Linked DNA regions of Homo sapiens: region 1 is linked to region 2. The links come from fine-mapping of genetic effects on gene expression. Tissue or cell type: whole blood. Region 2 holds a variant in brackets; the other region holds the start of a gene. All regions are shown on one strand. Distances are from middle to middle.

Evidence for each region. PIP is the estimated chance that this variant, and not a neighbour inherited with it, causes the effect.
Region 1: it holds the start of KRT23, and the variant in region 2 is fine-mapped to the expression of KRT23 in whole blood (TOPMed, PIP above 0.99).

Annotation. Positions count from the first base shown.
Region 1 is chr17:40,933,948-40,942,059 of GRCh38, forward strand. KRT23 (keratin 23) reads right to left here and starts at 3,699. Exons shown (of 9, transcript NM_015515.5): 1 at 3,399-3,699; 2 at 2,261-3,006. The coding sequence starts at 2,656. All of the region lies in intron 1 of LOC107985072 (a long non-coding RNA gene), which reads left to right.
Region 2 is chr17:40,984,447-40,992,547 of GRCh38, forward strand. It overlaps a transcript of KRT40 not described here. Among named protein-coding and RNA genes, the nearest start is that of KRT40, 4.2 kb to the left of the region's middle. The variant T/C (reference allele first, on the strand shown) is at 3,401.

The sequences.
Region 1 (8,112 bases), 50 kb before region 2:
GAAAACAGAATGTTTGACTGTAAACAAAAATGCCAAATATAGTCCGATTGAGAATCATTCAAGGTGTTTTATTTATGATACTCCTATGACTGTGTCCAATTCTGGATTTCAAAAGGATTGAATTAATTTTTAAGCTCAACTTGTTATCAACCTTTTGAGTGATATTTAATATACCTAAAGTGAGGGTACGGGAGAACTGTATCCACTCAGAGCATTTCACCAAGGTCCAGGAAGGATAAGCCCCAGGTAATTGTGGGACCTCCTTGCACCTCTGTTTTCTCATCTTCAAATGAGGGAGGTTGGGGTAGATAGACAACCTCAACTTTAAAGAGTTTCTTTCTTCAAGTGTAGAGAAAACACAATGTTAGAGGTAAAAATCCAGAAAAGAGTGAAATTCAAAGCCAAAGAAGTTTCCTATTCAATCTCAGAACCCAGAATTCCAGGTCATCTGAAGGGTGGGCAGGTTGCTCCCCACACCCCCCATTGCACCTACTCACTTTTCTCAATTCTGTTCCAAAGGATTTAGACAATGATTAGGTCTCAGTCTCCTTATCTGTAAGTTGAGAATACAAATACCTGCTCCACACAGTTGTGAGGATTAAATGAGACAATGTGTATGAAGTATGTGATGTGTGGTTAATGATGCAAGTATAATGCATTATCTTTATTCATACTAAGTGTCATTTTTATATGAGGTGGGCTAGGCAGCACTACACTGTAGTGAAATTTATGAGGCTACTGGAAACAGACCTGAGTTAGAATCCCACCTCTGCTTCTTGCTGATGGCTTTGGATGGCTATTTCACTTTTTTCCAAGCTTCCATTTCCTTACAGGGTTCTTGCAGAATCAAATAAAATAATATGGAACATTTCCATCATTGCAGAAAACTCTTGGATAGTGTTGACATGTGTATTAAATATCCAGCAGGATGCCTAGGTACATAATAAGTGCTCAGTAAACATTTCCCTCTCTTTCCTCCCTTTCTTTTTTTTAAATCTCTTCCGCGAGCTCATAAATTATTTGACTGGTTCTAACCTTGTATTTCTTTTGGGAGTCATGGTCTCCCTTTGCTCTCCATTTGCAAAAATCTTCAATTCCTCCTTTCTACAACCAAAGCAACTTTATTAAACAAAAAAACATGATGAGGACTGTTGAGTCACCTTGTTTTTTTTTTTTTTTCATAAAGACAACCATGCACTATATAGTTAAGGTAATTACAGTCAGTTATTAGGTTGATTATTCAATAATTAGGGTTCATTACAAGGACAGATTTATATTATCTTGACTGGTCCTTCCTACATTCAAGCAAGGATGACTGAGCATTGTGAAATAATATATATAAATATTGGAAACTTGTGATACCCTTTCTAGGGGAGGTTAAATCATGGTCTTACAGGGAATTTTCTGGGACTGCTTTATATAAGAGGGGAGTTAGATAGCTTTAAAACATAACCTATGAGATGATTGGATTCCTTCTACTTCTAGCTAATGTTATGAGACATCCCAGAAGGTATTTGCTTAGCTTTTTTGAGGTTTGGTTAAAGAGTTCGGTTTTTTTTGAACAAGGTCTTTATAGCCATCTCAACTCTCAGATTCTAAAAATTATGCTCATTTTATTATTATTGGTTCTAGCAATATGCCATTGTCAGAACTGTGAGCAACTTTACTGCAAGCAACCCACAAACGGAAATATCTAGGGATGTCATGATGACCTATATGCTGGTGTGGTGACAACTTTTAGGCATAATCTTCAAAATAGTGTAACAGCCTTTTGTCGATGGATAACCACATTGTTCAAAAAAGTTTGAGGTGGAGCAGAACTGAGGTAATGAGAAAGTAAACACTCTCTTATGCCTGGTGCACTGAGCATGCAGCATGAACACCAGCCCTTATCATTTCTATGACATCGTTGGGTCATAAGTGACATTAAACAGCAGCTGGTTGCCTCACATTTTAAAGATGTTTTTGGTCTGTGAGAAATCAGTAGTCTCATTTTTGAAACAGTCTGTAGCACTTCTATCATTTTTGCTGCCTTCTTTTTCTACATTATCCATGGACAGTAGACTAATTAAACAAAACAGACGTTTCCCACTCCAAATTTAAGATATAATAAGAAAACATCCCCCAAAACCTTTGTGCACAATTACTTCAAGCGCTGATGCCATTTTCCTGGAAATTGTCTTCTGGACTCATTTTTCCTCCCGAGGGTCCCCTGGCAAAGCAGCCCCATCTGGATCTCCAGGGTCACCCAGCATCTTACCTGCTCCTGCAGGTGTGTGATGTTTTCCTCATACTGGGAATAATCTTTCTTACTGCCAGGATCTCTCTGCTGGTGCCATTTCAGGATGCGGCTTTCCAGCTTCATGTTGGCCTCCTCCAGGGCGCGAACCTTCTCCAGGTAGGAGGCCAGGCGGTCGTTGAGATTCTGCATGGTGGCCTTCCCATTTCCGCCTAGTAGGGGGCTGCTTCTTCCAGAACCCCAAGACCCTCCAGGGGGTGGGCAGCTCCGCGTGGTGAAGGACAGGGAGATGCGGGCTCCCCCCGCACCGCCATGGACGGTGGGAGCCCTGGGGAAGCTCCTGGGCCGGCCCCAGCCACCTCCGGCGCCATGGAAGGAGGCCGAGGGGGTCTGGCTGAAGCTGTGTCCGGAGTTCATGGTCCCATCTGTGTTTGGGACGGGGCTGAGCTCTGCTCCACTCCCTGGCACCGCAGAACTGAGCCGCCCCAGACTGCCCTGGATGGTTTTATGGCCTTTGCTGTGGGAGTTCCCTTCTCTGACAATTGTACCAACAAGATTGTATCATTGTGCAACTTGTGTTTCCTCTTGGTCAATCCCAAAGTGCCCCTGGGCCTTCGCACACTGTTGTTGTTTAGAGCCACATCAATATGACAGTTTGCTTCCTCCCTTCCCCTGGTAACCCGGAGGTGTGGCCCACGACATCAGGCGGGTATTGGGCTCAGGTATCTTTCTAATCTTGCCGTGAAGTTTTTCCATTGTTCATTTACCTGGAATGGGTTAGGTTAAAGTCCACCCAAAAGAAAGCATATTCGATGTAGTATAGATTTCCTTAAAAAAAACCAAAAACCAAAACCAAAACAAAACAACAACAACAGCAACAAAAAACCAGACATTAAACAACAGAGATACACACACCTTTTTCCACCCCCAATAAGCCCCACCTCTAAAGGGAGGGTGAGCGAGCCTGGAGAAGGGAAAGCCAGCTCAGAACAGGATCTCAGGTCCCAGAATAAAGCTTGCTGTGCTGAGGCAGCCGAGAAGGTGGTGAATATCTGATGCCTTTGTGGCAGTCACTGTTTGAAGGAAAGTACTTTCAAAGGACTCGCTCTTAAGAACAAACCCTCAATTATAGATGTAATTAATTAATGAATGACCGAACCTTCCACTTCCAGGGTGCCTTTCATCCCAGCACACCTCAAAACCAAACAACCCTGGCCTGCGCTCAGGATTTCCCTTGGCCCTGGGGGAGGAATGTAGCCGTTGTTAGCAGCCCCGGACCCCGGCTGAGCCTGCCACGGCTGGGCTCTGTGTGTCTGTGACCTGCAGAGGGACGATGGAAAACAGGAAACCTGCCATGGGCTGTCAAATGTGGTTGATGAATCTTATATTTCATCTGCCAAGGTAAAGGTTAGGAATGAATAAAGAAGCAGTCTGGGGGCGGGAGCCACGTGCTAGTTACTGGCAGTTGGATTTAAAGGGGACTTACAAATAAAATATCAGCGCAGGAAGGGCTTCTGGCCTTTCTGGTTCCAAGCCACTAATTGGACAGATGAGGAAAGCTGAGGCCTATGGTGGTGGGGAGGTTAGTGGCAGAGCCAGGGCTAGATTCTTTCTCCACATAGCACTGTTATCTTGGGTTGAATCTTGACAGGTCCTGTACCACACTTCTCTTTCATAATAATAGGACTTGCCAATTGGTGTAGCTCTTTTATATTCTTTATTGAATCCTCACAACTCTTTATGTATCCAGGCAAGGGTTGTTGTCTTCATTTTGCAGACAAAGAATCAGGGTCTCATAGGGATGAATGATCCAGAGCTGATTCGCATGTACAGTGTAATTGAGCACATGAATTCATAGGTGACACTGCCCGAGTCTGTGCTGTCCTCCCTGCCTGGAAAGTCACTCACCCCTACCTCTTCTATAGTTCAAGGGCTACCTCCTTCAACAATCATTTTCTGAATTCTCCTGCATGAGTTGGGTGACCCTCTAGGAGGAAACTGCCTCTTCTGGATGCCGAGGTCCTCCAGAGGGGCAGACACCTTGGCATCCCACCTCATGGTGGAAGCTGGGAGCCCCTAGCCAGGCGCAGCCACCTCCTGTGCCTGGGATGAAGTCCACTCCGTTCTTTCACTCCATTATACTGCATTTGCCACACCCTTCTGAGACCGCAGGCTTCTTGAAAGCAGAGTTTATGTCTTCCATTTTTGAGCACCAAAGTCTGGTTTCTTGGTGGTATTTTGCAAATGTATGTTGACTCAATCATAAACTTTTTAGAGTCAGGATTTTAACACAGGTCTCCTGATGCCATCAACTTCTGCTCCTTTTAGGACTGTGAGTTATAGAACTAGAAAGTAGGAAAACGCCTCTCCTGGGTATAGATTAACCATCCATGAAGGCCAATCTTTTCCAATTACAAATAAAGCCACCCAAAAGCACACCAGCTCTGCTCCTCCCAGTCTTACAACAAAACCTTATCAGGGAAGAGTCTCTGAATATTTTTTATTTCACTGTGCACGAGCTGGAAAAATGAGCCTCCAAGCCTCAGGGAAGCTTGGAGAGTGCTTAGAAAGAGTGCCGACAGTCACTTACATCTCAGATATGAGAAAAAGACAAAAGAGACAAGTGATAAAAATAGAGCAAATGAGGGAACTAGAGAGACTTGTTTGGCGAGTGGTGGCAACCAGTGTTCTGTGGATGTGGACGGTTCCTGGTCATCAAAGTTATGGTCAGCTCTGGTTCCTGTTCGCCTGGACCCAGACTTACCAAGGAAGAAAACATTTACCTTTAGCATGTGCAAGGGCCGGGCTGCACTGCCTTTTTCTAAATTCTCTCACCAGAATCTACAATGAAATTAATGCTTCTCTAATTATTTCAGGCATGTCTGAGTGGCAGTGACTTATCAACCCCATAGATTTGGCCACTGTCTCATTTTATGTCCATGTGTGGGAGTTTTGATTTATAGGACTTATCCTTGAGCAAAAGATTTCTTGTGTCATAGCAGGACCAGGGCCAGGAAAAACTGGTGGTGAGATCTGAGAGCACTGGGGAGAAATAGTCTCTTCTAGTACTGTTATATGATGGTTTCCCATAACTTCTTTTTTTTTTTTTCTCAAGATGGAGTTTTGCTCTGTCACCCAGGCTGGAGTGCAATGGCGCAATCTTGACTCACTGCAACCTCCGCCTCCTGGGTTCAAGCGATTCTCCTGCCTCAGCCTCCCGAGTAGCTAGGATTACAGGTGCGCACCACCATGCCCAGCTAATTTTTTGTATTTTTAGTAGAGACGGGGTTTCACCATGTTGGCCAGGCTGGTCTTGAACTCCTGACCTCATGATCTGCCTGCCTTGGCCTCCCAAAGTGCTGGGATTACAGGCATGAGCCACCCTGCCCAGCCAATTTTCCATAACTTCTTTTTTTTTTTTTTGAGACAGAGTCTCGCCCTGTCGCCCAGGCTGGAGTGCAGTGATGTGATCGTGGCTCACTGCAACCTCCACCTCCCGGGTTCAAGCGATTCTTCTGCCTCAGCCTCCCGAGTAGCCGGGACCACAGGTGCGTGCCACCACGCCCGGCTAATCTTTGTAGTTTTTAGTAGAGACGGGGTTTTACCATGTTGGCCAGGCAGATCTTGAACTTCTGACTTTGTGATCCACCCACCTCGGCCTCCCAAAGTGCTGGGATTATAGGCATGAGCCACCGCACCCGGCCCTGGTTTTCCATAACTTCTAATGTGTAGAGTTCCATTGGATTTTAAAAGAAATGATGCTTTTTTAAAAGCATCATTTTAAAAGCATTAAAAGAAATGATACATGCTTATTATACAAAATCAAGTGATACATGATGGTACAGGAAAAAATATTTAAAAATTCTACCACACACACACAACGTTTGGTGACATTTGGTGAACATCCTTTCAGATACTATGTGTATGTATTGGAAGACAAAAGAATGGCTAGAATAATTGGAAAAATGGGCTCCTGCGACTTATTCCATTTTAGAAAAACTTAAGTCAATTAACACATTTTAATTGGCAAATAAGGAACTAAAATGAATTCACTTTAGTGACATAGTTTTTCTAGAATTTAAAAACGTTCATCACATTCTTTTAAATTTTACATTTTTAAGAAGGATAAAATGGCCTGTAAATGCCAGGATTTTTGGAATCGCAGGACTGGAAAGAAAAGCAACGCTGAGCCACTTGTTGCAGATTTTTGCTTTTAGGGAGGACAACGGCAGAGTGCTGAGCTTGTTTTTGAAGTATTCTTAAAGAACGCGAGGGATGAAGCCTCCAACTGCTTCCTCAGTAAATGGCCAACATTTACTGATCCTTTTGGTTCACAAGCATTTCACTTGCAATATGGTTTCAGGATTTCTTTTGGTATTTCTGTAGAGTGCAAATTGTTCAGAATCAAAATCATTCTGCTTTGCATGATTTTCTGGCTGAAACATTTGTAGTTTTCACATTTGATTCATCTTTCTGATGAACTCAGTTGTCGTCTTGAAAGGGAGTGGGTACTTTGTAAGACAGCTCAGCTGTTGAGTGAATGCATGGGGTTGCATGTGGGTGTGTTGGGGTCAGAAGGGAGCCCTGTCAGAAGGTAGCTGTCATGAACTGGGTACACCGTCTGTTTGTGTGCCTTTTCAAGACAACCATTCCATTAATGAAGCATTTTATAGGCACCCGTTCTTTATAGTAGAGAAAGATGGCCAAAATGACTCTCAAATACATTTTTACTACACATGATATTTCAGCACAGATGAGTAGTAGGTCTTCAGGCAAAATTGCTATGCTATTATCCTATGAGTTGGAAGGTTACATAAGAAGATTAGACATTTATAGAAATAAAACATGCCCATTAAAAGTGGGCAAAGGACATGAACAGACACTATATACAGATACTATTTGTAAGCGACTCAAGTTGGCTGTTGTTTTCTTCCTCATTTGAAATACTGTATTGAAGACTTCATAACTCACATCATCTCTCTGTTGGCCCCTTTTTCCTGGACAAATAGAAATATGAGAAAACGGTCTGAGGATCATGCTGTAACAAAGTGTTTTATATCAGCTTTACTTGACCACTCATGCTTATGCCCTTGTAGCATCTTATCCATTGGGAAAATGTTCCCAGCTGAAAACAGTCAATTGCAGCTGCAATTTTAAACATGGAATGCAATAGATAGACTTTAAGAAGTTAGTAAAATCTCTAAAACTATATGCAAAAATTTCTCTGCATGCTTATATGCTTGCTTTTCTGAGGAATAGAAGCTTTTATTAACTGTTGTATTTAAAAATTTCAATTAGGCCGGGCTTGGTGGTTCATGCCTGTAATCCCAGCACTTTAGGGAGGCCGAAGCAGGTGGATTGATCACCTAAGGGTATGAGTTCAAGACCAGCTTGGCCAACATGGTGAAATCCCCGTCTCTACCAAAAATACAAAAAATTTGCTGGACATGGTGGCGTGCACCTGTAATCCCAGCTACTCTGGAGGCTGAGGCAGGAGAATTGCTTGAGCCTAGGAGGCAGAGGTTGGAGTGAGCTGAGATCACACCATTGCACTCCAGCCTGGGTGACAAGAGTGAATCTCCATCTCAAAAGAAATTTTTTTAAATTAATTATTATTTGTTGAGACAGGGTCTCACTTTGTTGCCTGAGCTGTGGGCAGTGGTGCAATCATGGTTCACTACAGCCTCAACCTCCTGGCTCAAGTGATCTTCCTGCCTCCACCTCCCCAGTAGCTGGGACTTACAGGCGTGCATCACCACACCAGGCAAATTCTTTTTTTAATGTTTTGTAGAGACGAGGCCTTGCTACGTTGCTTAGGCTGGTCTCAAACTCCTGGGCTCATGCAATTCTCCTATCTTAGCATCTCGAAGAGG
Region 2 (8,101 bases):
TTATTTACTGAGGAAGAGTTTTATGCCTCATAAAATAGGGATAACTTTAGGTTACCAAAGCAGGACCCACACCATTTCCATGTGCAAGACAAAACACTTATTTCAGAAAATCGTCATAGGAAGCATTGTGCTTTTGACAGAATAATAAAAGAAAGAGAAAATTTGGCCAATGAATAATTATAGATACAACTCATTACAAATCAGGAAAATAATATGTCCACAGATTTTGATTCTGTGGATTGATTGCTTGTGTCCCCTTTTAAAATTAGTATTACAGCTCACAAAATGACAATTATTTGTTTGTGCCACCACCATAAAAATGGTCAGTGTGATTAGTAATCTTTCAATGCTTTTTGTGATCTCAGAGCATGTGCTGATAAAGACTGGAGGAGTGAGCTATATATTGGGTTTAAAGTGTGTGTGTGTGTGCAAACCATGTCTACCTGCGTACAAATGGAAAAGTCACTTTACATAACTGATAGGAATAACTTGTTTTTCTGCAGGCTAAAATATAAATTGGTTAGAGCTGGAATTATGATCTTTGATTTCCTGAAACTTGCCTTCTCCACATTTCTCATTGCTTATTGTTAGATAAGTTATACTATTTTACCTGTATTCCTAATAAGAGTGAAATATAAATTCTAAGTTATAACCTTTTAGTCCCTTGGGAATTCCTTAATGATTATACTTCAGAGTAGGGGCAAGGAACCCACAGGAATCTTTTCTTCTGAGATGTAGAGCCTGTTTTCTCCTATTTATTTATTTATGAAGGCCTGAATTTCATGAAAATTGAAAATACTGGAACTTGGAAAATAAAATTCTATTTAGGTTCCAAATCAGTAATTCCACTGGATGAAATCTCTGGTGCCAAATCTGACAGACAGGAACTTGAGATACGTAATTTTTTTGAATTATCTCTTGGATTTCACCTCCATTGTGAAGGATAATCTATTTCACTTTGCTTGGTTTTAGTCGTTACATTTATTTCATTTTCAAAGGTGCATAGAGAAAATTGTCTCTAGAATTTTTAAGAACATTATAGGAAAAAAACAGATTAATCTGAAAAAGTTAAAAAATTTTTGATCCAGAATAAACTTATTTTTTCTCCTAATCTTGAGTGCTACTTCCTAGGTACCTGATAGTAGAAACCAAACCAAACCAAACCAGAAGAACATATGTAAGTGAGTTAAAATAGTCTCTTAGGATTTATTACTCCCTGGGCAGAGCTGGGTTTGAATTTAGTGATTCTCTTTACACATCAACACTTATGCAAAAAGTTCTTAGAGTGTCTCATGGTATATTGACGCTGCTCTGCAACAAATATGAGTTCAAGGATTCAAAAACACTTCTGAAAAATTACAAATCTCTGAAAGAAAATTATCTTTTCACAGTAACCTAATGAGTCAAAAGAAAAATATCTGTGAAGAAAACCCATGTTTTGGTTGTCCATCACAGGCTCCAGTTAGCTAAAATGCAGTCATGTAAGTGCAGGTAAAATAAGAAATATTTCCTTCTGTCTGGAACTAATTTCTAATTGTAAATTATTTGTTACTGGTTATTGTCCTGCAGGTAGGACTATTTATTTTGGTCTTGATTAATTAGGTAGTGTTGTATAATGATCTATAGCTATAGTCTCCATCGTAGAATATAGAAATCACCCAGAATTCATTTCTGTGGAGTCCTCCTTAGGGAAAAGAAGTCAGGCTGGCAGGACCAGAGGAAAGCAAGTTAGTGGGTGCAGCGCACCAGTATGGCACATGTATACATATATAACTAACCTGCACAATGTGATAAATAAATAAAAAAAACCAAAAAACAAAAAACAAAGAAAGAAAGCAGGTAATGTATAAGACTCACCTTCTTCATGGTCCAGGACACATAGCCCTCCTGCACAATATTCCTGCACCCAGCTATCACCAGACCTTCAGCTGATAGAAAAATGTAACTTAGCTCACTGCAACCTTAGTGTTATCAGTACCACACAAACCCTCTTCAGCACACAGTACAAGCACCATCCTGTAAAATCTCCAGCACGCCTTTGTCTCCTTGCAGACAGCCCCTTCTCTGCTGTGCTGCCCATTGCTTCCTTGCAACGTATTTTCATACGTTCTCTAATATATCTGCCTTTCTTTACCTACAACTATCTTGATAAATTCTTCTTACCCCCATGCCACCAGCCCCAGATAGTTGCTAATCACCCGTGACAATTTCTATAGCATATCATCACCAGAAGAAAGGAACATTGGGAATAGAGAAAAAGAAATAGACATCATGAAAGGCCATGATAAAAAAAAAAACCGACAACAACACGGTAGTTTATTTTGCATAATACTATGCTCTTACCTTACAACATCCACCTAGGCTGCCAGAATCATTTTCCTAAAATACAAACCTGCTTTTTGTCGCCTTCCACTTATGGAATGCAAACTTTCTACCTTGGCAAATATGACCTTCCCTAACCTGGTGCCAATTTACCTTTCTGGGCTCACTTCCTGATGTTCTGTCTCACAAACCCTAAGCTCCAGCCATCCTTCAAGCTTCGTAGGTACTATTTTCTTGGTCAAATGCTCTTCTGCTATTCGTTTCCTGGATGAACTCACATGTCAAGACTCAGCTGAAACGTCGTTCAACTGCCTCATGTGGAGATGTGGCTCCTCCCAGAGCACTTTGCACGCATCTCTGCTATAGCAGTTGTCTTGTTGCTTTTAACATTTGTGCGACAGGTTATAAGAGTTTACATGAGGCCTTAAGAAATTTGGCTCAGGGCCAGAGCTAGTATCCACGTGCAGCAACTTGGTTGATTTTCACTGTTTTGGGCAACAACCTAAATAACTTTTAACAGTGCCTGGGAATGTTCAAGGGTCAGCTCGGGTTCAAGCTGCAGGGGAAACACACAGCTGGCTGGGCCACAGGGTGGTCAAGGTAATCTGTTTCCCAAGGCAAAGAAGGAAGTGGAGGGATGATCTGGGTGACCCTACAACATGATCAATCATATTGAATAACTTGGTCACTCTACATTATCCTTTATGTAAATTGTTTTATTCAGTTAGTTGATAGGATTAGCAAATGGATTTCCACCCCCATCTATGTTCTTGAGAAATATTTCCTGTAAATTTCTTTTCTTCTAATGATCTTGTTAGGTTTTGGTATCAAGTTACATACTGGGTTCACAATATGACTTAGCTCTGCGTCCCCACCCAAACTTCATCTCAAATTATAAACCCCAAATCCCCACGTGTTAGGGGAGGGACCTGGATGATTGGATCATGGGGGCAGTTTCCCGTATACTGTTCTTGTGATAGTGAGTTCGTTCTCAGGAAATCTAATGGTTTTGTAAGTGTGTGACAGTTCCTCCTTCCCACGCTCTCTCTCACCTGCCCCCATGTAAGAAGTGCCTGCT[T/C]CCCCTTCCACCATTATTGTAAGTTTCCTGAGGCCTCCCCAGCCATGTGGAACTGGGACTCAATTACACCTCCTTCCTTTATAAATTATCCAGTCTCAGATATTTCTTTATAACAGTGTGAGAATGGAGTAATACTGTTCATAAATTAAATTGGGAAATGTTTCCTCTTTATTTCATGAAATTCTGTAAGATTAGTGTTATTTATTCCTTAAATGTTTGATGGAGTCCAGTGAGGCCACCTCTTCCAGGAGTCTCCCATGTGAAAAAGTTGTGTTTTGTTTTTAACTAGGAAAAAAAATGTCTGGGCGCGGTGGCTCAAGCCTGTAATCCCAGCACTTTGGGAGGCCCAGGCAGGCAGATCACTTAAGGGCAGGAGGTTGAGACCAGCCTGGCTAATATGCTGAAGGCTTGTCTCTACTAAAAATACAAAAATTAGTTGGGCATAGTGGCGAACACCTGTAGTCCTAGCTTTTCGGGAGGCTGAGGCATGAGAATTGCTGAAACCTGGAAGGCAGATGTTGCGGTGAGCCGAGATCACACCATTGCACTCCAGCTTGGGTGAGAGTGAGACTCCATTTCAAACACACACACACACACACACACACACACACACACACACACACACATGCACACACACACGCAAATATATGTATATTTGCTGACCTCTACATCAAATTGCTTACCTCTACTTATAGAAACCTCACAATGCTATTCAGTTGTTCTATTTCATTTTGTGTGAAAGTTGCATTTTTCAAGGAGTTTGTTCACTTCACCTAAGTTGCAAAAATACTGAAATAAAGTTGTTCATAATAATCCTTATCATGAATTTTAGTATCTGCAGTGTCTATAAATTCTCACTATTTAATTCCAGATATTGGTAATTTGTGTTTTATCTCATGCTTCCCCCATCAATCTGGCTTGATGTTCATCAGATTAATACTAATGTATTGTTTATTTCAAGGTTGCTGAAAGAGTAGATTTTTGATGTTCTCACCATAAAACAATGATCAGGTGCTTAGGTGATGGATATGTTACTTAGCTTGATTTATCTTTCCACAATGCATACATAAATCAAAACACCACATTGTACCCCACAAATATACATATACACAATTATTATTTGCCAACTAAAAAATAACTAAATAGAAGTACTTTATGAATCCTTTCAAAGAATCAAATTTTAGCTTCATTAATTTCCTCGTTTTCTATTCATTGATTTCTGATATTATGTTTATTATTTATTTCTTTCTCCTTACTTTGAATTTTAATTGTTCTTTTTCTATTTAGTTGAAATGAAAACTTAAGTGATTGATGAAGAGATAAATGAAGGTGATAAAGATGTAAATCTTATTTTCTAATATAATCATTTGCTGTATATTTTCTACTAATCCAATGCTGTATGTATCCCATAAATTTTTAAAATCTTTTGTTTTCATTATCATTCAGCTCATAATATTTCTTAAGCTGTATTGGTATTTATTATTTGATCCATAGGTTATTAGAACTGTGTTGTTTGATTTTCAAATATTTGGTGATTTTTCTAAGTATCTGATTGATTTCTCATTTAATTCCATTGTGGTCAGATAACATATTTTGTTAGATTTTGGAATTTATGGAGACAAATTTAATGGCCCAGAATATAGTCTATTTTGGTGAGAGTTCCTTATGCATTTGAAAAGAATGTATATTCTGCAATTGTAGGGGGTAACATTCTGTAAATGTAACTGAGTAAAATTGTTTGATACTATTATTCAAATCTTCTTTCTCCTTGGTAATTTTCTTATCTGTTTGTTCTCTCAGATCCTGACAGGGGATATTAAAATCACCAAATGTGATTTTGGATTCATCTATTTCTCTCTTGACTTCTGTGATTTTTTGCCTTATTTATTTTGAAGCTCTGTTATTGGGTCATATTTTTAAGGATTATAGGACCACCTGATGAATTTTCCCTTTTTCATTATGAAATATCACCTTAAAATTATCTAATATTTAAGTGACCAAACTTCTTTCTTATCATTACTATTTGCGTGGTATGTCTTTTTTTCAGACTACATAATTCAATTTTCTTGTGCTTTTATATTTAAAGTGAATCACTTTAAAACAGCATAGTGCTGGGTTTTCTTTTTAAATCCAATCTGACATCCTCTGACTTTTTATTGGAGTGCTTACTTTATATTTAATGTAATTATTGATATGGTTGGTTTAAAATCTACCATCTTGCTATTTGTTTTTTATTTCCATGTGTTTTTTGCTTCCTTTCCCTTTTATTTCTCATCTTATTTTGGGCCAATCAAACATTCTACTTTATTTTCTATACTAGCTTTATAAGTATATATCTTTTAATGGTTTTTCTAAAGGGTGGGGTAGTTCTCTCAGGATTATGATATGCATCTTTACATTTTTGTACTCCACTTGGAATTAATACTGTAGCACTTTATGTAAAATACGAGAACCTTACCACAGTAGGGTTCTTTTTGCCCCTTTCTGTTCTTTGTGCTATTATTGTCAAATTGCTTACTTCTACATATAGAAACCCTACAATGCCATTGCTTTTGCTTTAAATCATTGTCTTTTAGAATATCGAGAAAAGGAAAAAGAGAAAGTCTCATATTTTATCCATGTATTTACCATTTTCAGTGTTTTTTTCCTTCCTGAAGGTCTGAGACTTCATTTTGTATAATTACTCTTAAAATTTTTTTATTGTGGCAAAATACAAGTAACATAAAATTTACTATTTTAACTATTTTTAAGTGTACAATCCAGTGGTATTAAGTACATTCAAATGTTGTGTGGGCATCACCACCGTCCTTCTCCATAACTCTTTTCACCTTTTAAAACTGAAACTCTGTTCCCTTTAAACAACTGCCCATGAAGCCCGCCCTTGTGTCCTGGCAACCATTGTTCTGCTTTTCATCTCTATGATTTTTTTACTACTTTTAACTACCTCATATAAGTGAAAGCATATAAGTGAATAGTATCTTTTTGTGCTGGCTTACTTCACTTAGCACAACATCTTCAAGGTTAATTCATGTTGTGGCATGTGTCAGAAAGTCCTTCCCTTTTAGGGCTGAATAATATTCCATTGTATGGATGTACCATATTTTGATTATCCATCCGTCTATCAATGAGCACTTGTTTGTTTTCATATTTTAGCTATTGCAATTATTGCTGCTATGAACGCAAGTATACAAATGTCTTTTAGCGACCCTGCTTTCAATTCTTTTGGGTATATACCCAGAAGTGGAAGCGCAAGATCATAAGGCAATTCTACATTTAATTTTTTGAGGAAGTGCTATATTGTTTTTCACAGTCACTGTACAATTTTACCTTCCTACCAGCAATGCTTGAGGGTTCCAATTTCTCTCTCTCTCTCTCTCTATATATATATAATGTATATATTATATATTTTACATATATATGTGTGTATATATATATAAGGGGTTTTGTTTTGTTTTTTGTTTTTTGAGACGGAATCTTGCTCTGTCACCCAGGCTGTAGTGCAGTGGTGCCATCTTGGCCCAGTGCAGCCTCTGCCTCCTGGGTTCAAGTGATTCTCTTGCTTCAGCCTCCCAAGTAGCTGGGATTACAGGAGCCCACCACCACGCCCAGCTAATTTTTGTATTTTTAGTAGAGACGGGATTTCACCATGTTGGCTGGGCTGGTCTCAAATTCCTGACCTCAAGTGATCCACCTGCCTTGGCCTCCCAAAGTGCTGGGATTATAGGCATAAGCCACCACACCTGGCTGTTTTGTTTTTTGTATTTATTTATTTATTTATTTATTTATTTTATGGCAGCCATCCTAATGGGTGGGAGGTAGTATCTCATTGTAGTTTTGATTTGCACTTTGCTAATGATTAGTGAGTGATGCTGAGTACCTTTGCCTGTGCTGATTGGCTATTTGTATATCTTCTTTGAAGAAAGTCTATTCAAGTTCTCTGTCCATTTCTGAACTGGTTTGTTTGTTTTTTGTCTTTGAGGTAAAATTACTCTTAAACCAAAAGGACTTCCTTATTGTTTCTTATAGTGTAGATCTTCAGGCACTTAAAAAAGAAGTCAGCTTTATTCACCTAAAAGTGTTTTTATTTTTTCTTTAATTTTGAAGGTTGTTTTTGCAGACTGTAGTGTTCACAATTTTTTTTCCTTTAGGACCTTTTAAATGAGGTTTGATTTTCCTCTGACATCCATTTTACCTAAAAAGAAGTCAGACATCCATTTTTTCTTTGCTGCCTTCTATTTGATTTGTTTTTTTTTCTTAATTGGTATTCAGCAGTTTGACTATGATATGTGTAGGTGGTGTGTGTGTGTGTGTGTGTATTGCAATTATCCTGCTAAGTGTTTATTGAGACTCTTGAATATATGGGTTAATAAAATGTCACCAAATTTCGAAAATTTTTGCTTTTATTCCCTCCCAAATTTTTATTTCCTATTCTTTAACTCCTCTCATTCTGAGACTCCAATTTCATCCTCATTTCACCACTTGGTACTTTCCCACAGGCTTCTTAGTTTCTTCAATTTCTTTTTCAATCCTTTTTTCTACCCTGGCTAGGCTGGAACCTCAAAGTCTGTTAATAGTGAATGACCTCTGGTATCTCCACTCAGCTTCTAATCACCCAGCAGCCACTCTTTGCTATGCCTGATGGAATTTCAGCCAGCGTATTTGCAACTGTGCCTTCTGTAAGTACTTGAGAACTTTTACACA